Linked DNA regions of Homo sapiens. The protein of the gene in region 1 purifies or fractionates together with the protein of each later gene. This does not show direct contact. Each region holds a gene or a part of one and is shown in the gene's direction. Other genes may lie near its edges. The genes, in order: IWS1 and SUPT5H.

Region 1 (15,093 bases):
AGGGACTTGGGAACTGCAGGCAGAAATGTGGGAATGAGCCATCGTCTTTTAGAACTGAGGTCAAGGCAGGGTGGCAACCCTGAACATGGACCTTTCGTGGGGACACAGACCAAGCGGTGGTGGGAGAGAAAAGGAGAGGTGGACAAGCTGCAGAGGTGGAGACCCAGTGGCTCCAGAGACAGGAGGAGACCCCCGATGCCTCAGGGTTTCCTGTGCCTCCTGTGGGTGGGCTCCATGGAGTCCCCAGTTTCCGTCTATTAAATGTTCTCTTTGTTGACATGGCTTGAAGGAGTTTCTGTATCTTAAAACCAAATGGCCCATCCCAAAGACAGGGAACCAAGCTGGGAGATCCCTTGAAGGACCACTTGGAGGGAGCTGCATGTTCCGAGTCTTTCAGGCGGCCCCCTGTCCCGCCTGTTCCCCCTAGAACAGCCCCCCAAGTTCTGCCCTTGCTCTGACTAGCCTCCTGCTCCCTAAAATTTGGTTCGGTTTCTGGGTCCACACTCAGCCTTTTTGAGCTTCATGCTGCACATGGTTTCTCGGGTTTAGAAAGATACCATTTAGCTCCTCTAGGGCTGACGCTGCTGCTCCTGGCAGCTCCCAGAGATGGTGAACCCCTTGCTCTGGGGCTGAGACTGAGTCCTCTTCGGACCTTTTCTACTGCCCTCATGTAAGAAAATATTGGGACAGAAAATCTGTGTGGACCAAAACAATCTGTAAGATGTTCCCATCCAGTTCTCACCTTATGCAAAATTTGACAGAAACACATTTTAGATACTGACCTGCTATTCTCTGTCTCTCTCTATTTTATGTTACACATTATATCACAAGAACTTTCTGACACTGTACCAAACTTTTACCATTGGTCTTTAGAAACAGCGTGACAGTATGTCACACAAGTGCCCCATCATTTGTATACCCATCCTCCCTGGATGGACCCTGGGAGGTACCCAATCCTTTGCTGTCACACACAATACTGCAATGAACATATCTGTGCTCTCAGCGTTGTTTGCATTTTGTCATTATGGAAGATTCCAGTGGGATCTCTGGAAGAAGATCTTCCACTATGGAAGAACAGTGGGCATGAATTTTTGGTTGCTAATATTTCTCAAGTGGCATGCCAAGTCCTCCCTCCCAGTCAAAACTGCGCCTATGATTGCAAGGACCTGGTCTGATTGCTGTGTGAGTTGGTGCAAAGGGGGACACCCTGAGGCATGGTTCTCCTGGAGCCTCAGGCTTTCCATAGCCAAGGGACCCCAAGCCCTGGAAATCAAGAAGATGGGTTGGGGAAAGGCAGGGCAGGCTCTTCCTGGTAACACGGGCGACCAGGCTTGGCTGTCTCCCAGCCCAGTGCTACTTCCACAATTAGCGTAGTGCTCATTTCCCAAGACGCAAATATTCAGCTAACCTTGAAAAACATGTTTGTGAGCTGAGCTGAAATGCGCCCATGGACAACCTATGGTTCATTCCATTCCTGTCAGTGACCAAGCCCATTATAGCGTCATCACAGCGACTGACACAGAGCAAGCCTTTCGCTTCAGCTCTACCAGCATATCATAGAGCTAACTGAAGTCACTTGCTTATGGTGGCCCTAATATTCCCATCTAGGCTACAGCAGCCAAATTATCCATTAACCCTATGAAACAGCAAGGTTGGCAGCACAGACCTCTGCGACTGAACTACTCTTTAGAACATTTTTGAATTCTCAGTCTCAGAAAGAGCTGGCATGTGATAAGGATTTTCTCTGTGCTGGGCTCTTTGCTTGTACCATCTCACTCAACCCTCATCAAACCTCAACAAATGAGGGGTGCTTCTCCTCATTTCATAGCAAGGAAGTTAAAGTCAAAGAGGTTATGAAACTTGCTTAGGCCACACAACCAAAAGTGGCAGAGGTGCGGTTTGAATTAGGGTGTACCTGACCCCATGGCCTGGGCTTATTGGGATGTATTATACCACGCCAACCCTCAGACAAACCAGACCTCCTCCTTCCTCACCCCAGTGATGCATGAGACATCCTATCTTCAGAGATTTAAAAAAAAAAAAGGTGTTTCCCCAACTTGCTGGCCCTAGCCCAGGGTTTGAAAGGCCTTGCCCATTTTGTTGCCTTGGTTTCTGAGATGCTGGGGCAAGGGAATATCTGGGAAGAGAAGCAACGCTTAAATGCTTCCCTGGAAACACAGTTGTGCACAGTACAAGACAGTAGATCACAGGGCACATTCTGTCCTGTAGTTCAGGGTTTCTCAGTCTTGGCATTATTAGCGTTTTGGAGTAGATTGTTCTTTGTTGGGGAATGAGAGGCGTTGTCCTGTGTACTGCAGAACATTTAGCAGCAGCCATTGGTTATGTCCCCACCCCTAGTGGTGACAAATCAAAATGTCTTCAGATATTATTGCCAAATGTCTCTGGGGGACAAAGTCCCAGTTGGGAACCAATATATAGTTCACAGGCCCAGGTGCCATTGGAGGCTGGGAGAAAGAGGAGGCCAACAAAGACCAGAACGAATGTCCTCCCGGAAGAGGTGACCCTGACCCTTGGGCTCCTTCAATGGCAGGAAGATATGGCTCAGAGGGAGGGTGCATGGAAGATGAGTGCTTCCTGGAGGATCTTGGTTCTGACATGCCAAGGAGATGACTGTGTCATCAGGCAAACTCAAGTACTTCATCCTCCGGGAACAGCAGCTTCAAGATAGCTGCTCCTAGACTGGGAAGGTCTTGGATCCAAAGTCCTGATGGGCCAGCTAGGCATCCACAGTCTCAGCCCAGGAGGAAAGGACTCATTTCTGGTGGTGCTTTTGTCACCATAAGCCCTCTGAGGAAACTACCCAGAGATTTGTCCAAGGCAGCAAGAGGGGGAAAGTAGGGGCACAAAATGAAAAGGTCACCTCCTCCTCTCTAGAGGGCTTTGGGCAATCCAGTGGATAAATCTGTCTTAGGCCCTAGCATTTAAACCTAGGTCACTGGCCATAAACATGGGACCTCTGTCCCATGACCAGGGTTAATGGCATATCCTGATGACTAATCTTATTGCCCTGGGGGAGATTGAGATACTGACAAGGAAAAGCAAAACTTGCTTACGTGTCAACTCAATAAACTAAATAAATGAAGTTAATGATGCTAATTATGACGATAGTAATACTTTGCCTAGCTCTTGGAAGATAGTGATACTTTGCCTAGCTCTTAGGCTCATTGCTGAGAACTTTATTTCTGGGAAAAGAAGTACTGGGGTGGATTTCTTAACCTTGCCTGGAATGCTGCATATCCACCAAGATCACTTTCCTTTTCCTCTTGGTCCCACAGTGGACATACTCTTCCCTGCCTCACTCACAATTAGAAGGGGCCATGGAATGAGGGTAAGTGATATGCTCTAACTCCAGGCTAGACCCACTAAAATATCCTGCACCTTTCTACACACTCTCTTCTCCCATCTGCTGGTGGCATGCAGAGCATCCAGTAGGGGCTTCTGAGGCCCTGGGAAATGGTGGAGCCACAATATGGTAAGAGCCTGGATCCCTGAATGACTGCTAGGAGCAGAGAGCAACCTCCACCTCACCACTGACCCCACTGCCCATTGACAAGAGGAAGAAACAAACTATTATCAAGTCAAGCCACTGAAATTTGTTGATGTTGTTATAACAACATAACTACATGGTAGATTGTTAGCTTACCATGATTGAAACATTATCTTTCCATCCAAATCGGCCTTTGTCCTTCAAATATCACCTCAAGCACCCTCCCCCAAGGAAGCCAACCTGATTGTTCACTCTAGCCTCACCCTCCTTTTAATTCCCATGGTACTTGTTACCCACATCACACAATTCACCTCTTAGCATTTTCTTTTTTCAAAGCCGTACTTCCTAATGAATTGTAAGCTTCTCAAGGTAGGAATCATGTGTTAATTTTCTGTATCTTCACAATGCCTAATAATAATGATAATAGCTAACATATATATTGCTAATCTTAAATAGTAAGATGCATAAAATATGATTACACATAGAGTTTATTTGAGTGTGCGGATAGCCACCCAGGAGACCTCAACTCCAAACGAATGGGTTCAGCGTTCCAAAGTGAAGAAGTTAAGGTTTTACTTATACAGAGACAGACAGAAAAATTTTAGCAGGATTATAACATTTTCCATACAAGACAGTGCATATGTTACAGTGATTTGATTGGTTACAGATTGCTGCATCCCAAGGAAGATGACATTATTACTCTGTAGAAGGGGCAGTGATCTGAGGGGGTTTTATCTCTGGCACCACTTAGTCTCAATTATTTATAGGTGGAAAAAAGGCAGAAGTTGCAGCTGCATGCCATGTGACTCAGGCTGCATAGTCACATTCCTCTCAAGACTCAGAACAATTTAAGTTCCAACAGCTTTAAGTTTGAATTATTTGGCTGGGTGCAGTGGTTCACGTCTGTAATCCTAGCACTTTGGGAGACCGAGGTGGGTGGATCACCTGAGGCCAGGAGTTCAAGACCAGCCTGGCCAACATGGTGAAACCCCATCTCTACTAAAAATACAAAAAATAGCCAGGCGTGGTGGTGCACACCTGTAGTCCCAGCTACTAGGGAGGCTGAAGCACGAGAATTGCGTGAACCCAAGAGGCGAAGGTTGCAGCGAACCAAGATTGTGCCACTGCACTCCAGCCTGGGTGACAGAGCGAGATCCCATTTCAAAAAAAAAAAAAAAGTTTGAATTATTTAATTTCACAATATTCTGTCCCAGGAATCATTATATAATATATATATTTATATCATGTATAATATTATACAAGTAATATATATAACATATTATACATTATAATTATATATGTGCATTTAGCTTCATGACAACTCTGTGACATAAATGGTACTGTTATCCCCAACTTATAGATGAGGACGTTGAAGCACAGAGAGGTTCAGCAACTTGCTCAAGGTCACGCAGCTAGTAAGTTTCATTTGTGTCTTCCCTGGTAGGGCTTGCTAGTGGCTCAAGCACAAGAAGCTGGGTCAGACTTAGAGACCTGGATTCTCTGACGTAGAAAAAAGCTAAGAGTACTTGAAACCTGATTCAACCCTCTCATTTGATACATGTGGAAACTGAGGCTCATAGAAGGCTGGTAGCTTGTCCCAGCTTACTAAGTACAATAAGCCCAGCGATAGGCCCACAGCCTAGGGCTCTAAGCCCCCAGTCTACAGCTCTGATGGTGCCAGGCTATTTATATTATGCGGCCTCTTGCTCCCTGACATGTTCAGCAGATGGCAGTGTCTTCAGAGTGTCTCCAAATAAATCTTACATTCACTTAGGGAATGCAGCGTCTCTGGGTTATCTGTTAAGGGAGGAAGCATTGTGGACTGCTGCAAGTTTGCCTCTCCATTCTTCTGTCATTAGCACCCTTGGTGTGGGAAACAGCCTATCTTCTGGGTGCCTCCCTACCACCGCCATGGGCCAACTGTACTGGGGTGGGGTGTGATGGGTAAGGAGATGGCAGTCCTGAAAATGTAAGGCAGCCAAGACTCAGAAAGACACATCTGTGCCACTACAGAATTTCTCTACCAGGATCCAGGAGGGACAGCCAGCTGGTAGGAAGGAGCTCTGGGAACTCTCCGTAAGCTGTGTTTACACTGACAACCACACTGCTTTAACTAAGGCTCTGTATTCATTTGAAAGACTTGTCCTGTCTCACTAAATTGTTGGCTTTCTGAGTACAAAAATTAGATCTGATGCTTCTTTGCAGGCTTCTAGAGCTAAGAACATTGTTGTGTGTCCAGAGTGTTTCTATCCTTTCTCCAAACCACCAGTACAGTTAGTTTTAACGCTAAAATTCAGTAATTTTCATCCGGCAATTGCATTGTTTATAACCCAACCACTTTCCTGACTGTTGGACTTACATCTCTGGTGAAACTAAAAGGTTCTCTTCCACTGAACCTCCGCCTGGAATTTTGATCTATTAATCCTGCTCCATTTACACAGGTGTACTCTCACCTTCTCTTTAGAAGAGGGCTTAGAGCCTTGATATCTTCTATCAAGTGATTCGGTTTCGGGCATTGCTAATTCTTTGTTCTTTTGATTCTCAAGACTGCCTGAGAAGATGTCATTCCCACAGCTGAAAAGAAGGAATTTGGATTCAATGCTGTTTCCACCACTTCGGAAAGGAATATCCATGAACTCTCTTGCAGGAAAATGGGAATTTCCAGAGAGAAACCACTTCTCCCCTTTCTTCTCTTCCCACGTCCTCTTCAGGAGCCTATAATTGGGCTCTGCCAGCATACTCTGACTGGCTAACGAAGGGTCAGATATCTGCAGTAGTAACAAAAGGCTCTTTTTCTACATGTCTACACCTCCTGGGGAGTCTTTGCTTAAACCTCTACTGGCCCTCCTCCGATCCAAAGGCAAGAATGTTCCCCTCTCTGTCCAAGACTAAAATGAACAAGTAAGGAAATGGATTTTACTCAGCCTATTGCAATAGGGAGAGCACTCCAGATATGATCAGTGTCTTGGCAGCGTAGTTTTGACTTTTATAGGGAGGAAGGTGGGATGATTGACAGTTGGGATTGTTTTGCAATCAGGAGAAGTTTCAGTCAGGTGAACAGGAAATGTTCTCTGTGTCTAACAAGTTGGGGGGAGGAGAGTTCTAATCTCAACTAATCACTCGATATCATCAGCGGGAATTTGGAAGGTCTGTTTGGCTTTATTAACAGGCTCAGAATAAAGGGGAAAGGTCTCTGGCCTTGTCACAGGCAAACAAGGGGGTCATCTGCACGCGTTTTATCTGAGTCACATGGAGACGGGTGGTTCTTTACAGTGTGCCGTTCCAGAAACACAAATAGATGAGGGGGTTTCTTAATCACCGCTGTTTTCCAGGAACACAGGGCTCAGGTAAAGTTCAACTTCACCTTCCTCCGGTGTTTCATCAGGGGAACCCTTCTGGAAGCAAAGACGTGTACTTCTTACTGTTGGCTAAATGGCTTCTTAACAAGGAAATTAAATCGTTGTTTAGAATGAAAGAGAGGAAGACGCCGGGAGAGGAGGCGCTGTGGATCGCGCCAGTTAGTAACGCATCACAGCTCGCGGGCGTCATACTACAAGTCCCAGTGAGCAACGCCCGCTTTCTTGCCTACTGCGGGCGGGAACCAGGCGCCTCTGGGCCTGACGGGAAAGACAGTGGTTTGGCTGAATGACGGAAAAGTCATTTGAGCAGGTCTTCATTTTTCGGAAGAGTATCTCAAAAGCTCTTCAAACAAGGCACGGACACAGAATCTAGGAAATGATAAAGAATCAATGATAACGTTATTACCACGGGGGTCAGACCAGGATCCACCCGAGGAAGGTATTTAACTAAAGCCCGAGTTCCAGCTCAATTTTCCCAGGAGTCTCCTTTCCGGCCGTGCCTGGCGTCATTGCTGTTGCGTCTTCTCATTGGCCGGTTGACGGGTTGCGGCGCCTGCGCGCTGCATTCCTTTGAGGGTCGTGGGCAGACGCCATTTTGGCCCCAGCGGTGCTTCTAGGAAGTAGAACGCCGGCTCGCATGCCTGCCCGCCCGCCAGCCTGCCGGGTACGGCCTTTTCCGCCGGGGCTTCCAGGTCAAAGAATTCGCCTTTGCCGCTACCGCTTTCTTACCCTCCGCACCCGTTAAGTTCTCCGGTCGGGCGGCAGTCTCTGAACACTTAGCCGCGCCATCCGGGGTCACACCGCCTGGAAGGAGGTGACGGGGGCGGCGCGGGGCGCGGACACTCCCCGCTGAGAGTCCGCCTGCCATGGACTCGGAATATTACAGCGGCGACCAGTCAGGTGGGGCAGGGACCTGGGGGACCGGGCTGGGAGGCGGAGCAGTTACTCGGCGGGGCTTGGCCTGGCACCCCGCGGGTGGGGGCAAGGAGGCCCCCCGAAACCTTCCCTCCCGCGACCCGGCCCGAGGAGGGCAAGAGCCCTCTGACCAGCTGCAAGCGTCGAAGCTAGAACGTTGGAGAGGGGATTCTGGTGGGAAAGCTTTCTTCTGAATCGGCGAAGGTTTTTGCTGAAATTGGGAAGTCACTTTCATATGTTAAGCTCCTATTGTGTGCAGGGAAGGAGAGGTGTCTTCTGTTAAGAGAGTTTTCAGTAGTTGAGTAGTTGGAGAATCCAAGGGGCGTTGGGGCGGGGGATCCTTCCTAGACTTTTCACTGCTAGTTAGGAGTGGTTTAATCTTGCTTGCAACACCGGACGTAAGTGCAGGACCCATGTTTCAGTTGCATGCATAGAGTAAGGAATGCGCTTCTGGCACTTACTGGTGGTTTTTGTGCCTTTCCTCCACCTTGAGATCGTTCCTCTTCCTCCTCACCGAAGTTTGGTCTCCTTTCTTTACTGTTTGTTTATTCTGTAAGCTGTTACTGGGGCCCACTCTGCTGGCACGGTGCTTGGCACCTGAGATTAAGGATAAGTGAGGCAGAACCTGGTGTGGGAAACACGTCGCATTTGCTTTCCCTTTGTGTGCTAGTCCTGTTGGGGCGTTCTGTTACAAAAGTTCTTAAATACACCATAAATAAATACACCCTCTATGTACCCACAAAAATTGAAAATTAAAAAGAAAACTTGAGTGCTTAAATAATTGTTTAAGCGTTAAGCCCTTTACTGTTTTGAGTTCATTGCTTTTCCTTACGTAGGACAGTGAATTCTAATGACTGCAAAGCGTTTTCCAGGCATGCACTGCTTAAAAACACTTTCCTAAGCCAGGTGCGGTGGATTATGCCTGTAATCCCAGCACTTTGGGAGGCGTAGGCGGCCGATGGCTTGAGCCCAGGAGTTCGAGACCAGCCTGGGCAACATAGTGAGACCAACACCACCCCCACCCCCCATGCCCGTACCCCACCCCCCTACGCCCCTACCCCACCCCCCTACTTCGTCTCTACAAAAAAATGCAAAAATTAGCCGAGTGTGGTGGCATACACCTGTAGTCCCAGTTACTCAGGAGGCTGAAGTGGGAGGATCCTTTGAGCCCTGAGCCCGGGAGGCAGAGGTTGCAGTGAGCGGAAGTTGCACCACTGCACTCCAAGCCTGGGCGACAGAGCAAGACTCTGTCTCAAAAAAAACAAAAACAAAAACAAAAACAAAAAAACACTTTCCTGATACTTTCAGAATAGTTTTTTTTCCATTCATTTGTGTTTTTAAGTTACTTTTTAAAAAGTAGACCGAGCACGGTGGCAAACACCTGAGGTCAGGAGTTTGAGACCAGCCTGGCCAACGTGGTGAAGCCCATCTCTACTAAAAATACAAAAAATTAGCCAGGCGTGGTGGCGGGCACCTGTAATCCCAGCTACTCAGGAGGCTGAGGCAGGAGAATCACTTGTTGAACCCGGGGGGGTGGAGGTTGCAGTGAGCTGAGATCACACCATTGCACTCCAGCCTGGGCCAAAAGAGCAAAACTGTGTCTCCAAAAAAAAAAAAAGTAATTATATGTAATACATGTATATAGGTTAAAATACGATTTTACTCTGTATTTTTTAAAGTATTGGGGCTGGGTGTAATCCCAGCACTTTAGGAGGCAAAGGCAGGAGGATTGCTTGAGGCCAGGAGTTTGAGACCAGCCTGGGCAACATAGCAAGACCCCATCTCTACAAAAATATAAAAGAAAGTTAGGTAACAGTTTGTATTTACCATTTTATATATGCTTTTCTTGAATGGATTTTCACTAGTTTTGGACTGGAGTTCCTTGTGTTCTTCATTTGTAAACAAATACTTACTGTATATCAGGTACTAGGCAGTGTTCTGGGCTCCAGAGATTTAGCAGTGAACCAAAATCCCTATTCTTGTGGCATTTTCTTTCAGGTGAAGAAGACCCACGTTAAACAAAATAACTTCAGGTAGTATATTAGAAGGTGATAAATGCCATGGAGAGAAAGACCCAATTTTAACATGAAGTTGAAATAAATTGTTGACTTGGTGTTTAGTGTTGTTTCTTAAGCTACAAATTGTTTTTATGGTGTAGTTTTGCTGCCACGTATTTCACAGTACATGTTATGCTTGTTGGTGTTTGTATGAGTATTGTATTACCTTATTCAAAATATTAGCAACTTTAGTTAATGCTTCCTCAGTGGTAACTTTTGCACTTACGTTATTCTTGATTCAGTGTGTTCATTTCACTGTAGATGTCATTCATCTTACACCATAAGTTGGTTTTTGTTTTGTTTTTAATCAGATGATGGTGGTGCTACCCCAGTACAGGATGAACGGGATTCAGGGTCAGACGGTGAGGATGATGTAAATGAGCAACACTCCGGATCAGACACTGGAAGTGTAGAACGTCATTCAGAGGTATTGGCTAACCAACATCTTTGGGAGGGCTTTTCCCTTGCGTTCTGTGAGATCTGTTATATTATAGGAGTTACAGAATCTCTGTGACAGAGTTTAGGGTTTAATCTCTGAGAGTAAAGGAGCATAAGTTAATAGAAAACCGCTTGAAAAATAAATAGGGATGGTCTGGTTACTGTTGAAATCACAGTGAAATATGTTCTGATTGGGTCACATTTCAAATGTTAGGCAGTTTTCAACTGTGCATATTGATTCAGAAAATGGGCCCGGCCTTTGATATTTGACTAAGTTTCCCTATTCTGCAATAATGTCATAGTGGGGCATTGAGCATTTGCAATCTGAAGAAACACCACTTGAAATAGAAAGTTATGGGGGTTATCACCTGTCAACATTTATGTCAGCATTTGCCCTTCTGATTTTGAACTGTTACGGTGTATATAATGTATGTAATAATAATGCTTTTTTTTTTGAGACAGGGTCTGACTCTGTAACACAGGCTGGAGTACAGTGGTGAGACCTCGGCTCACTGCAGCCTCTGCCTCTGGGCTCAAGCTATCCTCCCACCTCATAGCCTCCCGAGTAGCTGGGACTACAGGCACAGGCCACCACGTCCAGCTATTTTTGTTTTCTTGGTAGAGATGGGGTTTCACCATGTTGGCCAGGCTGATCTCAAACTCCTGACCTCAAGTGATCTGCCCACCTCAGCCTCTCAAAGTGCTAGGATTACAGGCGTGAGCCACCACACCTGGCCTGCAAATATAATTTTAAGAGCTGTTTTTGTTTAATAATATGTAATAGTATTGGGTTTTGTGTACATTTTAACGTATTTGCTCTAATACATAAATATTTCAGAACTGCTTTATTTTCCTTTCTGTTTATACATCATGTTAACAAGATAAAATTGGGAAATTTTTCAATAAGTTCGCCGTAAGTCTTTGGTAGATACGACTGAAACAAATAGGAATGATAAAGATGCAAAGATTTAAGAACTTTCTATGCCTTATATTTTTCTTGATTACACATATGCAGAAAATTGTCCAATTTTTAGTAGGTGTGATTAGAGATTATATTGACTCTGTCCTTTGACAGCAACATTAGCATATCATACATTCAACAGGTATTTATTGAGCACCTAATATGTGTCAGACTTTTTGCAGGTGCTTTGGACTTATCAGTGACTAGAAGTTAAAATCCTTCTCTTCTTAGGTTTGTTTTTCCAGTAGGAGGAGAAAGACATTAAGCAATAAACATTTTTTTTTAATTGTGTAGTCTGCTAGAAGATAACAAATGCTGTGAAGAAAACAGATAATTAGAACAAAGGATGGAGGGCAGGCTTTGGTGTTAAATAGGGACCATATAGGTCTTTTATTAAGAAAGTGACATTTGAACCAAGGTGTGAAGGGAGGCAAAGGAATAGCCGTGTGGATATGGACGTTTAGGGGAAGAACATCCCTGGCAAAGACCCCAAGGTGAGAGTGTGCTTGATATCTTCAAGGAGCCAGTGGAACTGAAATGGGGTCATTAAGGGGTAGGGGAGGTCAGAGAACTAAATGCGGGTGTGGAAAAGGCTCATCTTTTATATATTTTGATGTCACTCAGGTTTTTTCTGTGCTTTTAAACATTCAGAATAAATTCCAATATTTTAATTGATAGTTGGAAGTTACTTAATAATGTATATGTTGTTACAGCCAGTGCATTTAGTGCATGATATTTTAAGTTTCCTCTTTGGAAACAGCATTCAGAGATTAATCATGGTCAGTTTAGAGCCCAGTAGGGTAGTCATCTCATGGCCTCATGGTGCAGTTACAAGTTCAGGTTACCCTAAGCATCTTTGTTTTTTTATAATATGGATTCTAAATAAATAAGTGTGGCTGTTTTTGAAAATTTGGAAATCACAGACTGTCCCAGACTTAAACTATAATTTGACTTAAAAATTTTCAACTTTGCGATGTTGCAAGTGCTGTATGTATACTTTGAGTACCCATACAACCGTTCTGTTTTTTCACTGTATTCAGTAAATTACATGAGATACTCAACATTCTATTATAAAATAGGTTTTGTGTTGGGTGATTTTGTCCAACCGTAGGTCTTACCTCTGTAAGTGTTTGGAGCACATCTAAGGTAGGCTAGGCTAAGCTGTGATGTTTGGTAGATTAGATGTATGAAATGCGTTTTTGGCTTAATTATATTTTCAGCTTACTATGGGTGTATCAGGCTGTAACCCCATAATAAGTTGAGGCACTCCTGCATCTGTGAAGTTTAAAGAAAAAAATTAAAACCAGCATAGTCCAACTACAGAAATGACTATGAGCCTTTTCACATTATTTATCCTGCAGTTTCATTCTGTCCCAGGTATATGACGTCTATATATTTTAACTTTACTTGAGATGTTATTATATATATTTTGTGTCTTTCTATGTATATATTTTGAGACAGAGTCTCACTCTGTCCCAGGCTGGAGTGCAGTGGCATGATCTTGGCTCACTGCAACCTCCGCCTCCCAGGTTCAAGCAATTCTCCTGCCTCAGCCTCCAGAGTAGCTGGGATTACAGTGCGCTACCACGCCTAATTTTTAGTATTTTTAGTAGAGACAGGGTTTCACCATGTTGGCCAGGCTGGTCTCAAACTCCTGACCTTGTAATCCACCGGCCTTGGCCTCCCAAAGTGCTGGAATTACAGGTGTGAGCCACTGTGCCCAGCCTATGTATTATTTTTTATCTCTTCACTTAAGATGATACTTTTAAGTGTTTCCCCACGTCATTAAAGATTCTCAATAAGCGTAATGTTTAATGGTTTCACAATATGGATGCAGCATCACTTATTCAGCAATTTTCTAATTGTTGTCATTTATGCTGTTTAGCTATTGTATTAAATAACTGAAGCTGCCCTGAAGATTTTTGTACATAAACATTTGTGATCATTTTTTATTGTTTCCTTAGAAAGCTGCCAGGAGAATTAACGAGATTAGAGACTAAGACATTTTAAGGCTCTTCATAGAAATTCCTCTCCAGGAAGGTTATGGTAATTTGCTAAACCACTAGTACTTCAAGAGTGCCAGTTGTACTGTGTATAAGTGTTGAGTTCTGTATTAATGTTCTTTTGCCTGTTTAAAATGGCTTTTAAGAAGACATTTTGTTTTCTCATTAAACATTTTTTTTTAGAAGTAATGGGATGTTAAAAGAGTACGGTTGCATTAAATGAAGCAGTGCAAAGGCCGGGCGTGGTGGCCCTTGCCTGTAATCCCAGCACTTTGGGAGGCCGAGGTGGGTGGATCATGAGGTCAAGAGATCGAGACCATCCTGGCCAACATGGTGAAACCCCGTCTCTACTAAAAATACAAAAATTAGCCAGGCATGGTGGTTTGCGCCTGTAGTCCCAGCTACCTAGGAGGCTGAGGCAGGAGAATCTCTTGAACCCGGGAGGTGGAGGTTGCAGTGAGTAGAGATCACACCACTGCACTCCAGCCTGGCGACAGAGCGAGACTATGTCTCAAAAATAAAAACAAAACAAAAAAAATGGGGCAGTACAAATTACAGGTCCAAAGCCTGAAAGATACTAGTTTCCTCTTGAGGCTGTAACAACTTGATACAACTTGGTGGCTTAAAACAACGAAAAATTATTATCTTATAATTCTGGAGGTCAAGTCCAAAATGGGTCACACTGTACTAAAATCAAGGTGTCCCAGGGCTGTGTTCTTCTCTGAGGGAAGATACATTTCCTTGCTTTCTTCAGTTTGTAGTGGCTACCTGCATTTCTTGGCTGAGGCTCCTTCCTCCATCTTCAAAACCAGCAGCATAGCATCTTCACAACTCATTTTCTGACCTCTTGTTTCTGTCATCATATCTCTCTCTTACTCTGACCTTCCTGTATCCCTCCTGTAAGAACCTTTGTAATTATAATTGGGCCTACCTGGATAATCCAGGGTAATGTCCCTATTTCAAGGTCCTTACCTTAATTACATTTGCACAGTCCCTTGCATGTAAAGTGACATATTCACAGGTTCCAAGGGTTAGAACGTGGACATTTTTGAAGGGCCATTATTTTGCTACCATAAGATGGTACTCACAGCATAATTTTCCCAATAATGGTATTTTTTTTTTTAAACCCCTCATCTGTATTTTAGAATTTAGGCTAGTATTTTTTTTAAATTCATTTCACCTATAGTATTTACTCAGTGCACACACACGCACACACACACACACACAATCTTTAAGATAGTGGTCAGTATAGGAAATACTGATAAGATTTTGAAGACCAGTAACTTTTGCAGATTTCTTAACCACTTTATTAGAAAGCTCCTTTAGTTATTAAAAAAAAAACTTATTTTTTCTTAAAGTAATTGTATATGTCTATAAATAATCTCAGACAGGTGACAGAACAAGTCTCATATCAGACTACCTTAAGAAAACAAGAGTTTACTGTAACACATGTATGTAATGGGCTGTAAATCTTTCTGTCTAGGTAGCTTGTTCTGTCCATCTGTCATTGATGGCCCTGCCTAATGGCCATTTCTAATAACATCTCTGTTTATTCTTGTATGGTTGGCTTTATTTTTTTCTCCAAGATTTGAAAAACACTCAGTAATCAAGATAAATGATATTTTAAAACTCAAAATGAATGCAAAAAAAAATGAACAAAATATCAAAATCTTTAAAGTTAGGATCAGTAACAATGCTGTGTTGGTCTATATTTGAGCCAGAGGGAAAAGGAAAAACCAGTACTGGTTATCCTGTCTTCACATTTTAAATATTTTGTTCGTCATGGGTTTTTTTGCACCAACGTTGATCTTTAAAAAGATCACCTGTCTTGGGCCGGGTGCGGTGACTGACG
Region 2 (15,230 bases), on another chromosome or scaffold:
GAGGGAGAACAAAGTGGCCCTGGACTGAGCCCTGGTAATTGATGTCAGATTTGAAGGGGTTAACAGTAAGAGGAGCTTGAAGAGGAGCTGGTGGAGTTTTGAGAAAAACCAGGAGAGCATGATACGGCAGAAGCCAAGAGAGGAGCATTTCTCCAGGGAGGGCATGGTTGGGGTGCCAGATGCTGCTGGGATGGTAGGGAATACAGAATGGCCACAGAATTAGCAACAGGGGTGGCCAGTGATCTTCGTGAGCAGTGTGGACTAGAAACAGAGATGGGAGTCACTGTCACAGAGATGTCCACCACCGCCAAGGGAGAGGACGAGATGGCCTTGGGGAGTTGTAGAATGGGAAGAGATGGGCCAGGTGCTGTGGCTCACACCTGTAATCCCAGCATTTTCGGAGGCAGAGGCGGATGGATCACCTGAGGTCAAGAGTTCGAGACCAGCCTGGCCAACATGGTGAAGCCACGTGTCTACTAAAAAAATACAAAAATTAGCCAGGTGTGGTGGCGCACACCTGTAATCTCAGCTACTCAGGAGGCTGAGGCAAGAGAATTGCTTGAACCCAGGAGGTGGAGGTTGCAGTGAGCCAAGATTCTGCCATGGCACTCTAGCCTGGGAGACAGAGTGGGACTCTGTCTCAAAAAAAAAAAAAAAAAGAGAGAGAAAGAAATGAGGCCCAAGGACCAAGCTTCATCAAGCTATTATAGTTAAAGACTCGGTGGAAAGTGAGCAAGAGGTCTAGTGCAGGGAGAAGCCCGGGTCAACTCCCAGGGTTGCTTGGGTGGCTGGGGAGATGGCAGTGCTGTCGCTGAGATAGGATGGTAACCAGAGAGGCCAGGCTAGAGTGAAAGGGATATATGCAGAGCAAAGTGGGCTATGATTGGCCAGGCCAATCTGAGGTCAGATTTAGGGTGAGGAACTTGGTTTTTGGATTTTTGGGGTAGCAGAATTCTGGTGCTACAACCCTGCCTGACCCCTGTAGGTAGACGAAGAGCGGCGGAGTGCAGCGGGCAGTGAGAAAGAAGAAGAGCCTGAGGACGAAGAGGAGGAGGAAGAGGAGGAGGAATACGATGAGGAAGAGGAGGAAGAAGATGATGACCGACCCCCCAAGAAACCCCGCCATGGAGGCTTCATTCTGGACGAGGCTGGTATGTCATAGTGCTTGGCCAGTGCCGAGCAGAGGCTGAGCTTCTACTTTTAGTTCCATTTCTTTTTCTTTTTTTGAGGCGGAGTCTCGCTCTGTCGCCCAGGCTGGAGTGCAGTAGCATGAACTTGGCTCACTGCAAGTTCATGCCATTCTCCTGCCTCAGCCTCCTGAATAGCTGGGACTACAGGCGCCCGCCACCACGCCCGGCTAATTTTTTCTATTTTTTAGTGGAGACGGGGTTTCACCTTGTTAGCCAGGGTGGTCTCAATCTCCTGACCTCGTGATCTGCCCGCCTTGGCCTCCCAAAATGCTGGGATTACAGGCGTGAAGGACCAAAGTTCTTAACTTTTCTCGTGCTACGGCCCCTTCTGTAGTCTGGTGAAACCCTGTTCCCTTCTCAGAATCATCTTCTGAAATGCATAAAACAAAATACATAGGATTCCAAAGAGGACAATTTATTGAAGTACAGTTATCAGAATATTTAAAAAGAACATTTTGGTGCATATGTTTCTTTGTTAACATATTTAGGTAATAAGACTTTGTAGGTAGTCTGAGAATCTAATTTTCAAGTAGCAGTGAGTGTAAATGCTGCCTTGAGATACCTATAGCTGTAATGTGCTGTGAAAGAGCCAGTGACACAGCTAACATTGTGTGGTTTGTTGCCATTGTATGTAATTGATGTAAATGCTAAATTTCAATTCCAGGTTACTGAAAATAGGAGCTGTAGTTTTTTCATCGAACACAGACCACCCCAGATGAAAAATCTCTGTTCTACGTGTTAAATCCCTGTTAGTCAAATTGCTAGGTAAAGGTGGTGCATTTTGTTGTTGTCGTTGTTTTTTTTTTTTTTTTTGAGACGGAGTCTCGCTCAGGCTGGAGTGCAGTGGTGCGATGGCTCACTGCAACCTCTCCCTCCTGGGTTCAACTGTTTCTCCTGCCTCAGCCTCCTGAGTAGCTGGGACTACGGGCACGTGCCACCATGCCTGGCTAATTTTTTATATTTTTAGTAGAGACAGGGTTTCACTGTGTTAGGATGGTCTCGAACTCCTGACCTTGTGATCCGCCCGCCCTGGCCTCCCAAAGTGCTGAGATTACGGGCGTGAGCCACCATGCCTGGCCGCACTTTTTTTAAAAAAAGATTTTTTATATTTACGGCCAAATATCAGTTCCTAAAAAGATAAGACTAGTTCATACTTCCATGATGATAATGAATGTGCATGTTTTCCCTTACCTATGGGAAGAGGGGTTACTTAGAACACATCCTGCCTCTGTTTTCCTGGGACTGTTTTACCTGAGAAGAAAAGTAGTTTATTGTCAAAGGGACAGGAGGTGCTCTGGATGTTCTTGGAGAGCAAGAGAATGGATACCATGCTGGGTAAAAGCTGTGGGTTCCCAGGGACACCCATATGTTGGTGGTGGAAGTGTTGGTGGGCACTGCCTGTGTGGAAGGCTGTGTGGCAGTGCCTGTTAGCATTTAACATGCAGGAACCCTTTGACCAAGCAGTTCCTCTTTAGAATTTACTTTATGGTTAAACTTGCATGAGTGCATGAAGACCTGAGAACAAAGATGCTTGTTGTAGTCCTGTTCGCAGTTGCAAAAGTTTGGTGACCTAAATGTTTATTGATGATTAGGGCCTGGTTAAACAAATTATGGGCCATATAGTATATGAGGCATGTGCTGCTGTGGGAGAGCTCTGAGTTAGTAGTAGTTTTGAGAAAAAGAAAGGTACAGAACGGTGTGTTAAAAAAATTACGTGGGGGCTGGGCGTGGTGGCTCATGCTTGTAATCCCAGCACTTTAGGAGGCTGAGGCGGGTGGATCATCTGAGGTTAGGAGTTCGAGACCAGCCTGGCCAAGATGGCGAAACCCTGTCTCTACTAAAAATACAAAAATTAGCTGGGCGTGGTGGCGGGCGCCTGTAATCCCAGCTACTTGGGAGGCTGAGGCAGGAGAATTGCTTGAACCCGGGAGGTGGAGGTTGCAGTGAGCCGAGATTGCTGCACTCTAGCTTGGGTGACAGAGCAAGACTCGGTCTAAACAAAAAAAATTACATGGGGGGAACATAGTGGTGGCGGGGTGGATTACATGCATTTCTTTTCTTTTCTTCTTTTTTTTTTTTTGAGATGGAGTTTCGCTTTTTCACCCAGGCTGGGGTGCAGTGGTGCAATCTCAGCTCACTGCAACCTCCACCTTCTGGTTTCAAGTGCTTCTCCTGCCTCAGCTTCCCGAGTAGCTGGGATTACAGGTGCCTGCCACTACGCCCAGCTAATTTTTGTATTTTTAGTAGAGACAGGGTTTCACCATGTTGGCCAGGCTGGTCTCGAACTCCTGACCTCATGATCCACCCACCTTGGCCTCCCAAAGTACTGGGATTACAGGCGTGAACCACTGCGCCCCGCCTCTTCTTTTTTTTTTTTTTTTTTTTTTTAAGACGGAGTTTCTCTTGCCCACCCTGGAGTGCAGTGGTGTGATCTCGGCTCACTGCAACCTCTGCCTCCCGGATTCAAGGGATTCTCCTGTCTCAGCTTCCCGAGTAGCTGGGATTATAGGCGTGTGCCACTAATTTTTGTGTTTTTAGTAGAGACGGGGTTTCACCATGTTGGCCAGGCTGGTCTCGAACTCCTGACCTCAGGTGGTCCACCCATCTCGGCCTCCCAAAGTGCGGGGATTATAAGCATGAGCCATTGTGCCCAGACCTTTTTTTTTTCTTTTTTCTTTTTTTTTTTAAAGACAGGATCTCACTCCGTTTCCTAGGCTGGAGTTCAGTGGCATGATCATGGCTCACTGCAGCCTCTACCTCCCAGGTCCAAGTGATCCTCTCACCTCAGCCTCCTGAGTAGCTGGGACCACAGGTGTGCATCACCAGGCCTGACTAGACTGTTTTTTTTTGTTGTTGTTGTTGTTGTTGTTGTTTTTGAGACGGAGTTTCCCTCTGTTGCCCAGGCTGGAGTGCAGTGGTGTGATCTTGGCTCACTGCAACCTCCACCTCCCGGGTTCAAGCAATTCTCTGCCTCAGCCTCCCGAGTAGCTGGGATTACAGGCGCCCACCACCATACCTGACTAATTTTTTGTATTTTTAGTAGAGACGGGGGTTTCACCATGTTGGCCAGGCTGATCATGAGCTCCTGTCCTCATGATCCACCCGCCTCGGCCTCCCAAAGTGCTGGGATTACAGGCATGAGCCACCGTGCCCAACCCTAACTAATTTTTTAAGTTTTTGGATTTAGGAGGTCTCACTATGTTGCCCAGGCCGGTTTCAAACTCCTGGGCTCAAGTGATCTTCCCACTTCGGCCTCCCAAAGTGTTGAGATTACAGGTGTGAGCCACCACGTCCAGCCTTACATGGATTTCATATATGTACACAGATATCTCTAGGCAAGAAACTAGTCACGGAGTTGCCTTTGGGAGAGGTTACTGAGATTCTAGGGGTTAGAAATGTGAGGGAGACTTAATTGATACTTACATCCTCTATGGACATTGGAGTTTTTCATTATGTGCATGTATTACGTTTTTAGTGTAATGTTTGATACCTGCAAAGCAGTACATCCAACATGGTAAAGAGATTAAGTACATGGACCATGGAGCCAGACTGCCTCTCTCAGATCCCAGCTGAGTCTGTGGGCAAGTTCCTTAATCTCTCTGGGTCTCAGAGCCTTTGCTGTAAAATAGGAACAACGATAGTGCCTCCCTCGGGGTTGCCAGGAAGATCAGTGAGGAACCTGTGTCAGGTACTCAGAACAGGGCAGGGTGTATAGTATGCTCTCAGCATTAGCTGTTATAAATGTACAAGAATCATAAAACCAACAGACCATGAACCATCTTTTAAAAAACTATTTATTGATCATTTTCTGATAGTTGGGAGGGAACTTTTCTTTTTGCTTACTTTGATCTTAGTTTTTTAAAAGGGATTTGGGAGTGGAGTAAGGAGAGGGGATGACTTTTAGAGTTAGTTGGAGCTGTATGTCCCCCTCGATCCTGATGCGTGCACCAGCTCTGTGGCACGGCCCCAGACGAGTGCCTCCCTGTTGGAGCCTCAGTGTCCTGCTCTGTGCGGTGGGGATTTGTAGTGCACATCTCCCAGAGGAGATGCTTCGTGTCCTGGGAGCTGTTATGAGGTCACCTTTGCCACTTACCACTTGGCCTTTCCGTTTTAGATGTTGACGATGAGTATGAGGACGAGGACCAGTGGGAGGATGGAGCAGAGGACATTCTAGAGAAAGGTGTGTGTGAGCCCTGCCTCCACAAGACTACTGGGAAGAGGGTGGCTGAGAGGGTCTTCAGAGCCCATTCCCCCGACCCCCGCATCCCCTGTACACCCCAACTCCCACCGTCCTCACCTTGCTTCTTTCTGTCCTTCCCAGAGAGACCAGCTCCCTGCTTTTTCCTTTTAGGCCCATGAGTGGGGGGTGGGGCCCTGGGGTGGGGATGTTGTGGGGAGAGGACTCTGGGATCCCAGGGCCCAGTGAATCCCTTCTGGGGTTGTAGGGTGGGCGAGCTCTGTCCCAAGATACCCCCCACTTCCTGGGCCAGTGCCCCCCTTTCCCCGTTATTTTCCGTTCTGTGCGCCTCATACATTTCGGCTTCTCCCCAACCACCTGGTGCCTGGCCTTTACTTTTGGTTTTCAACCTTTCTGTGTCCCTCCCTTCCCCTCCCCCAACCCATTGGTTGATTTTGCTGCTATAATTTGGCTCATACTTTGTCTGCCCTCGCCCACCACCACCACCACCACCACCACCACCACCACCACCACCACCTCCTCTTCCTCCAAGTAGAAGAGATTGAAGGTAAGAATATGAAAAGTGTGATTCCCTGACCTTCCTCCCATATCCTGACATTTCCTCCTTCCTGAGGCACCTGCCCTCACCGGTAGCCTCCCCACCAGCCCCGGTCTGGCCCTGAGGGCTCTGACCCATGTAGGATCCAGAGTCAGGGAGTTCTGGGGCCAGGTATACCCCAGTTGTTGACCTGGGAAAGCACGGATGTGTCTGTCTGGGACTGAGCATTTGTGGGTGGTAGCGATGTGTGGGGTGGGGTGCAGTCCAGGGTGTGCCTGGACTTTGAGATGGGAACAGCTGGAAGCCCCCCAACTTGCTGGGCCCCATCCCCAGTCTTTTTGACAAGAAGCAGGATGCTGAGTAGGACAGAGTAGGGGATGAGGGGTTGGGATTTCCTCTGTGAGATGTCATCTTCCTGCCCCAGGGCCAAACCCTGGCCCTCTTAGCTGCACGCTCCTATTTTCTCCAGGCCCCTGCCCTCCACCTGCCCTTGCTCACGCCCTCTGCCCATTATTTTTCAGCCTCCAATATCGATAATGTTGTCCTGGATGAAGATCGTTCTGGGGCTCGCCGCCTGCAAAACCTCTGGAGGTGGGCAAGGAAGGGAAACGTGGTGGGATTGGCTCCTGTGGGGAGATTTGGGAGTAGGTCAGCCCACCTGCTGTCCTCAACCTTCAATTCGTGTTTGCTTCCCCACTCGTGCTCCAGGGACCAGCGAGAAGAAGAACTGGGCGAGTATTACATGAAGAAATACGCCAAGTCATCTGTGGGAGAGACGTAAGGGCATGGTGGGGGCAGGTGGGGGCAGGGAGCAGGTGGTCCCTAAGCGGGAAGGGGCGGGGATCTGACAGAGCTTCACCCCTTCCTGACTGCCCTCCTCCCTTCAGGGTGTATGGAGGATCTGATGAGCTCTCAGACGACATCACCCAGCAGCAGCTGCTCCCAGGAGTCAAGTAAGGGGGTTGGGATGGTGGGGGCCGTGCTGGGGTGCGAATCTTGTATGGGGTGATGGTGCCTAGACAGGTGGCTCCCTGAAATAAGTCAGGGCAGAGTCACACAGGCAGTGTGGTGGATGGCAGGGGTAGGGAGGGCAAGGTGGCACTTTCTCTTTCCTCTTGCTCCTGGGTAGAAGCGTGGGGAAGTCAGTGAGTGTGAGGGAACCTGGATGTGAAACCAGAGGAAGGGGGTGGCCCTGGGGGTTCGTCTGTTTGTTACTGAAGATCCAGCTTCACTGAAGGCCTTCCTTTTCCTCTGCTGCTTAGGGATCCCAATCTGTGGACTGTCAAATGTAAGGTATGTGCTCTGATCTCGGGGCTTGGAGGAGGTGGGAGAATGAGGGAGGCTGCTTTGTGGGGGAGAAGTGTCTGTCTGTCCCGGGTCTCCGTGGCCTGCCAGTCACTTGGTCCTTCTGTCTCCATCCCTCACTCCACGTTACTGACTGGCTATCTCCCACCTCCATCTTCCTGGCTGTCCATCCTTCTTTCTCTCTCCTCTCTTGGTCCTACTTTATTTTTCTTGCTGCTGTCTCCTTCCCCCTTTCCTGTGTCCTTTCCTCCATCCTGTCATCTCTCTCAAATCTGCCTCTCATCTTCCAGATTGGGGAGGAACGGGCCACGGCCATTTCCTTGATGCGCAAGTTCATTGCCTACCAGTTCACAGACACGGTAAGTCGGGTAGACAGGCGGCTTGGTGGGGAGACATGGCAACACCCAGAGGGAAGAACATTGTCAACTTCAGGGGTACCAGGTGCCTCTGTTGTGAGCAGAGCTGCCTGCTGAGTGAGCTGCTTGAGCTGGAATAAGACCACTGCCTAGATGGAAGGGCTCTTCTCGGCCTAGATGGATATGTTGTCTTTGTTCTCTGCATTTATGGCAGGGTCTTCCCACCCTTGTAGCCCTTTGGAAGTCAGCCAGCTAGCTTCCTGCACCTTTTCTTCATGAGAGTGGGTTTGCCTGTTCACCAGCCCTGTTGGGCTGGGGTCACCCACTTCACCACATGCCAGGCAGCAAATGCTGCATCCAAGGCCCAGGTCTTTCTTTAGACTGACAGAGTTTGAGTCCTGCCCTTGCCACTTCTTAGCTGTGTGACTCTGATGCACCTACTTCCCCTCTCTGGGCCCCTTGGTTGCCTCTCAGCATCATTAGGATTAAGTGGCTTTTGGCTGGGTGCAGTGGCATTCACCTGTAATACCAGCACTCTGGAAGGCTGAGGCAGGCAGATCACTTGAGGTCAGGAGTTTGAGACCAGCCTGGCCAACGTGGTGAAACCCCGTCTCTACTAAAAATACAAAACTCAGCTGGGCGTGGTGGTGCACACCTGTAGTCCCAGCTACTTGGGAAGCTGAGGCAGAATCACTTGAACCCAGGAGGCAGAAGTTGCGGTGAGCCGAGATCGCATCACTGCACTCCAGTGTGACAAAAAAAAGGATTAGGTGGCTTTATGTCCAGCTCTCAGCTAGGACTTGTTCTGCAGCTTGCATTTACTTAGCAGAGCTGTTGTCAAAGGCTTCATTGGCAGTTTGGGAACCAGGGCAAACGCTATGAAGGGTGCTGGCTGGTAACTTTCTCAGTTAACATGATCCCTGCTAGGGATCATGCTTTCACCTGTCCAGCCACTGGGTGTGACCCAGTGGGACCAAGTAGACAGTTGTAGGGTTTGCAAACTATGCTTTTAAATGTGCTCAAATGTCCTCCTCAAAGGCCGGCCATGGTGGCTCATGCCTGAATCTCCAGCACTTAGGGAGGCTGAGGTGGGTGGATCACGAGGTTAGGAGTTCGAAACCAGCCAGTTTGAGACCAGCCTGGCCAACATGGTGAAACCTTGTCCCTACCAAAAATACAAAAATCAGCTGGGCATGGTGGTGCTTGACTGTAATCCCAGCTACTTGGGAGGCTGAGGCAGGAGAATCACTTGAATCTAGGAGGCAGAGGTTACAGTGAGCCAAGACTGCGCTATTGCACTCCAGCCTGGGCGACAGAGTGAGACTCCGTCTCGGGGTGGGTAGGGGGTGGAATGTCTTCCTCATTATTATAGTAATAAGTGTCCCTGCCTGTCATGGGTGAGATTGGGATTTGTGGGGTATGATTCCCCAACAGGGAGGTTGAAAAGGTACCTTTTGGCTAGGTGTGGTGGCTAATGTCTGTAATACCAGTATTTTGGGAGGCTGAGGCAAAAGGAGTTCGAGGCCAGCCTGGACATCATAGTGACATAGTGACAACTGATTTCTACAAAGAAAATAATAATAGGCCGGGCGCGGTGGCTCACGCCTGTAATCCCAGCACTTTGGGAGACTGAGGCGTGTGGATCACCTGAGGTTAAGAGTTCGAGACCAGCTTCACCAGCATGGTGAAACTCCGTCTCTACCAAAAATACAAAAGATTAGCCAGGGGTGGTGGTGCATGTCTATAATCCCAGCTACTTGGGAGGCTGAGACAGGAGAATTGCTTGAACCCAGGAGTTGGAGGTTGTAGTGAGCCAAGCTCGTGCCACTGCACTCCAGCCTGGGCAACAGAGCGAGACTGTCTCAAAAAAAAAAAAAAAAAAATAATAATAATAATAATTAAAAGAAGTGTGCTCAAATCCTCCTACATGGTACCCTGGGGTAAAATTCTAGTTACTTCATTTGAGTTATGTCTCTGATTATTATTTTTTTTTGAGACGGAGTTTCACTCTTGTTGCCCAGGCTGGAGTGCAATGGTGTGGTCTCGGCTCACTGCAACCTCTGCCTCAGCCTCCCGAGTAGCTGGGATTATAGGCATCCGCCACCATGCCCGGCTGATTTTTTTGTATTTTTAATAGAGACGGGGTTTCACCATGTTGGCCAGCCTGGTCTTGAACTCCTGGCTCAAGTGATCCACCCGCCTTGGCCTCCCAAAGTGCTGGGATGGCAGTTCTGAGCCACTGTGCCCAGCCTAAAATTTAATTTTTTTAAAGTGTAAACTGTGGTGGATTTTATATATTGTAGTGTATTCATAACCATCATCACCATCTAATTCCAGGACATTTTCATTATCCCAAAAATAAACCGATACCCATTAGTCATCACTCCCCATTCCTCCCTCCTCACAGCTCCTGGTAACTATGAATCTACCTTCTTTCTCTGTGGATTTGACTATTGGAACTCTGAATGGTTCATACAAAGGGAATCATACAATATGTCGCCTTTCGTGACTGACTTGCTTCACTTAATGTTTTCAAGACTCATCCATATTGTAGCATATATCAAGACTTCATTTTTTTGTTTGTTTTTTTGAGATGGAGTTTTACTCTTCTTGCCCAGGCTAGAATGTAATGGTGCAGTCTTGGCCCACTGCAACCACTGCCTCCCAGGCTCAACTGATTCTCCTGTCTCAATCTCCCAAGTAGCTGGGATTACAGGCACCCGACACCACGCCTGGCTAATTTTTGTGTTTTTAGTAGAGATAGGGTTTCAGCATGTTGGCCAGGCTGGTCTCGAACTCCTGACCTCAGGTGATCGGCCCACCTCGGCCTCCCAAAGTGTTGGGATTACAGGCGTGAGCCACTGTGCCCAGCCTTAATTTTCTTTTTTTTTTTTTTTTTTGAGACAGAGTCTCGCACCGTTGCCCAGGCTGGAGTGCAATGATGCGATCTCGGCTCACCGCAACCTGCACCTCCCGGGTTCAAGCGATTCTCCTGCCTCAGCCTCCCAAGTAGCTGGGATTACAGGCACCCACCACCATGCCCAGCTAATTTTTTTTTTTTTTTTTTTTTTGGTATTTTTAGTAGAGATGGGGTTTCACCATGTTGGCCAGGCTGACCTTGAACTCCTGACCTCAGATGATCCACCCCTCAGCCTCCCAAAGTGCTGGGATTACAGGCATGAACCCACTGCGCCTGGCCAACCGGCCTTAATTTTTGTATTTTTAGTAGAGGCAAGGTTTCACCATGTTGGCCAGGCTGGTATTGAACTCCCGACCTCAAGTGATCCTCCTGCCTCGGCCTCCCAAAGTGCTGGGATTACAGGCATGAGCCACCGCTCCTGGCCTTTTTTTTCTTTTAGTTGGTATTTACAGCTATACATTTACTTCTAAGCATGGCTTTTTTCAAATCTCATAAGTTTTGGTATCTAGGAGTGTGTTGCCATGTATTTGTGAATTTCCTAAGTATCTTTCTGTTGGTTTTTAACTTCATTACATATGGATGGAGAATATACTTTATATGATTTTAGTTCTTTTATGTTTACTGAGACGTGTTTTATGGCCTAACCTGTGGTTTATTCTGGAAAGTTTAATATGCCCTTGAGAAGAAAGTGCATTCTGCTGTTGTTAGATGGAGTGTTCTTTTTTCCCATTTCCGCTTAATAAGTGGAAAGTGAAGACGAAATGTTCTGTCTATAGCTGGCTATTAGGTTTAGGTGGCTTACAGTGTTGCTCAAGTGTTCTCTTTCCTTGTTGATCTTGGGTCTAGCTCTATCCATGATTGAAAGCAGGGTATTGCAGTCAGTGATTGTTACTGTTGAGTTGTCAGTTTCTTCCTTCATTTTCATTAGTTTCTGCTTCATGTATTTTGAGGCTCTGTTAGTTTCATATACATTTGTAATTCTATCTTCCTGATGGATTGACCTTTTTATTGTTACAAAATGTTTTTTGTTGTCTCTGGTAGCAATTTTTGTCTTAAAGTATATTTTGTCTGATGTAAGCACTCCTTTCTTGGTTCTTCTTCTAGTTGCTTTTTTTTTTTTTTTGAGACGGAGTTTTGCTCTTATTGCCCAGACTGGAGTGCAATGGTGCGATCTCAGCTTACCGCAACCTCCACCTCCCGGGTTCAAGCGACTCTTCTGCCTCAGCCTCCCGTGTAGCTGGGATGACAGGCATGTGCCACCACACCCGGCTAATCTTGGATATTTTTAGTAGAGACAGGGTTTCTCCGTGTTGGTCAGGCTGGTCTTGAACTCTTGACCCCAAGTGATCCACCCGCCTCGGCCTCCCAAAGTGCTGGGATTACAAGCATGAGCCACCGTGCCCGGCTCTAGTTGCTTTTTTACACAGAACATATGTTGGATAGCTTTCTATATTAGTACATACAGGTTAATCTAATTTTTATTTTATTTTTTATTTTTAAGAGACAGGGTTTCACTCTGTTGCCCAGGCTGGAGTGCAGTGGTGCGATCTCAGCTCACTGCAGCCTCAACCTCCCGGGCTCAAGCAGTCCTCCCTGCTCAGCCTCCTGAGTAGCTGGGACTACAGGCATGTGCCATCACACCCAGCTAGTTTTTGTATTCTTTAACTGCAACATTGTATTTCATGGTACATTAAGCCATAAGTTAACTAGTTACTGTTTCTGGATATTTTTAAAATTTTTAGTCTGGTTTGTTTGCTGTGATAAATAATTCTGCAGGGAACACCTTTGTGTCCATGTCATTGTGCCAGTGTGTTTCTGTGGAATAAATTCCTAGAAGAGGGACTGCTGATGAGTGGCAGTCATTTCTGTTATTAGCCGTTGTGTCTCACTGTTTCCTCCTTCCACCGGCTCACCCTGCAGCCCCTGCAGATCAAGTCAGTAGTGGCACCAGAGCATGTGAAGGGCTACATCTACGTGGAGGCCTACAAGCAGACCCACGTGAAGCAGGCCATTGAGGGGGTGGGCAACCTGCGGCTTGGCTACTGGAACCAGCAGATGGTGCCCATCAAGGAGATGACAGACGTGCTCAAAGTGGTGAAGGAGGTGGCCAACCTGAAACCAAAGTCCTGGGTCCGCCTCAAGCGGGGCATCTACAAGGATGACATTGCTCAGGTGCCCGGGGCGGGGTGGCATGGGGGTCAGGGTCCCTCCATTCTGTTCTCCCTTCCTTTCCTTTTGTCCTTCCCACCCTCTTTGTGCTGCAGAGAATAGAATCCCACTCAGATGAGTTGAAGCAGAGCCTGGGTTTTGTGAGCACACAGGAAACGGTTGGCTGTCTTCTGTGCACATTCCCAGGCGTGTTGAGTAAAGGTCTGAAGGATCGGAGGGCGTGAGGCATGTGGAGCTCTTGGGGAGGAGTGTTGTAGGCAGCAGGAGTGGCCTGTGAGATAGGATGGCACAGTCACTGGCTACAGCAGGGATGGCGTGAGATGAGTTAGGGAGCTCACGAGGGCCTGCGGCCCATTGGAGAGCTTTGGTGTTTACTGGCGTAGGATGGGAGGGCTGTAAGGGACACAGGCAGACTTCAATGTTAATAAGATTTCTCTGGTGACTGTGTTGAGACTAGACCACTGGTTCTCAAGCCAGGGTGATGTTTCCCCAGGGGACATTTGGTAACGTCTGGAGACATTTTTGGTTATGTCAGCTGGGGAGGGGGTTGACGATTATGGCATCTAGCAGGTTAAAGCCAGAAATGCTAGACACACACATCCTCCAATGCACAGGATGGCTGCCCACAACAAAAAATTACCTGGCCCAAAAAGTCAATAGTGCCAAGGCTGAGAAACCCGGGAATAGCCTGGAGGGGGCCATGGGCAAGAGCGTGGAGACCAGGGAGGAGGCTGCTGCTGTAGCACATCCCACCCAGATGGCAGTGCTGGTGGGATAGGACCAAGACCCTAATACACGTTGAGTGTCTCTAACCTGAATTCTTGAGACCACAGGTGTTTTTCAGATTTCAGATTTTTTCAGCTTTTGGAATATTTGCATTATACTTACCGGTTGAGCATCCCAAATCTGAAAATCCAAGAGTGAGCATTTCCTTCGAGCATCATGTTGGTGCTCACAGGGTTTCCTATTTTTGAGCATTTTGGGTTTTTGGATTTGGAATGCTGAGACTGCAGTGGAGGAGGGGAAGAGGTCAGGTATTTTGAAGGCAGAGCTGATGGAATTTGCCAACGGGTCGGGTGTGGGTGTAAGAGAAACAAAGGAGTCAAGAGTGGCTCCCAGGTTGTGTGCCTGAGCAGAGGGAAGAATGGAGTGGGAGGCGGCAGGTTTGGGGGAATCAGCGGTTTGGCTGCGGTCGTCCTGGATTTGAGGGACCTTTAGACATCCAGGTGGAGATACCAAGCAGGCAGTGGCTACTCAGTGCCAGAGTTGAGGGGACAGACAAGCTAGCGTGGGACTTTTGGGAGTGGTCAGCAGCCTGGTTTCTTCCCCACCATCCTGCGTCCCTTCTCCTTCCTAGCATCTCCTGACCCTTCTTGTGTCTGGGGTCAGGGAGGAGAGTGGGGCCCTGCTGACCTTCTGCTCGCCCTGCTCAGGTGGACTACGTGGAGCCCAGCCAGAACACCATCTCCCTGAAGATGATCCCACGCATCGACTACGATCGCATCAAGGCCCGCATGAGCTTGGTACTCAGGGGAATCTGTGGCCTGGGGGGGAGGGAGTGTGCTCGATCCCACTGGTGGCCAAGCCCCCTCCCTCACCCTTCCCACCCATGCCCCTTTCCTCCATAGAAAGACTGGTTTGCCAAAAGGAAGAAGTTTAAGCGGCCTCCACAGAGGCTGTTTGATGCTGAGAAGATCAGGTGCGTGTCCTTGGGGACTGGCTGGGCTGGGTCCCCAGGGCCGGTGTGTAGAATGTGCCTTTTGCAGGTTCCTCCCCAGGGGTGGCCCCGCCACAGGTTTAGCCTGTGAATTGGTTAGCTTGGCAGTATAGCCTCAGGCAAGTCACTTCACATCCCTGTGCCTCAGTTTCTTCTGCTATAAAGATTGATGAGGCTGGGCGCAGCGGGAGGGAGCACTTTGGAAGGCTAAGGCAGGAGGCTTGCTTGAGGCAAGGAGTTCGAGACCAGCCTGGGCAACATAATGAGATCCCATCTTTTAAAATAATAATAATAATAAAAAGAAAAAAGTTAAAAAAATATTTAAAAAGATTGATGAGGCTGGGCGTGATGGCTCACACCTATAATCCCAGCGCTTTGGGAGGCCGAGGCGGGCGGATCACTTGAGGTCAGGAGTTCAAGACCAGCCTGGCCAACATGGTGAAACCTTGTCTCTACTAAAAATACAAAAATTAGCCAAGGGTTGTGGTCAGCTCCTGTAATCCAAGCTACTTGGGAGGCTGAGGCAGGAGAATCGCTTAAACCCACGAGGCAGAAATTGCAGTGAGCCGAGATCGTGCCACTGCACTCCAGCCTGGGTGACAGAGCGAGACTCCGTCTCAAAAAAAAAGAAAACAACCTCTGCTTCCTCAGATTATAGATTATAGTGAGAATTAAATAAATTAGTATGCATATGTACTCAGAATGCCCTTGGCACGTAGTAAGTGTGATCCATGGTGTGATATATTGAAATGGGATTCATGGACTATGTCAGGCTTTAGAAAGTCTCCTTTCCTGATCTGCTTATGCCCACTTGAGATGGGGGGGTATGGAGTGCCT

The links.
Region 2: the proteins of IWS1 (region 1) and SUPT5H purify together in Homo sapiens (affinity purification with mass spectrometry; 2 studies listed by BioGRID and IntAct, with this or other methods). This does not show direct contact.

Annotation. Positions count from the first base shown.
Region 1 is NC_000002.12:127,518,849-127,533,941, reverse strand, and holds the start of IWS1 (protein IWS1 homolog), read left to right. Parts: upstream 1-7,452; 5' UTR 7,453-7,733; coding exon 7,734-7,767; intron 7,768-10,150; coding exon 10,151-10,266; intron 10,267-15,093.
Region 2 is NC_000019.10:39,452,371-39,467,600, forward strand, and holds part of SUPT5H (transcription elongation factor SPT5), read left to right. Parts: intron 1-985; coding exon 986-1,151; intron 1,152-5,304; coding exon 5,305-5,370; intron 5,371-5,923; coding exon 5,924-5,935; intron 5,936-6,447; coding exon 6,448-6,517; intron 6,518-6,634; coding exon 6,635-6,703; intron 6,704-6,813; coding exon 6,814-6,879; intron 6,880-7,188; coding exon 7,189-7,219; intron 7,220-7,521; coding exon 7,522-7,590; intron 7,591-12,427; coding exon 12,428-12,679; intron 12,680-14,109; coding exon 14,110-14,199; intron 14,200-14,304; coding exon 14,305-14,375; intron 14,376-15,230. UniProt on the Homo sapiens protein: Component of the DRB sensitivity-inducing factor complex (DSIF complex), which regulates mRNA processing and transcription elongation by RNA polymerase II.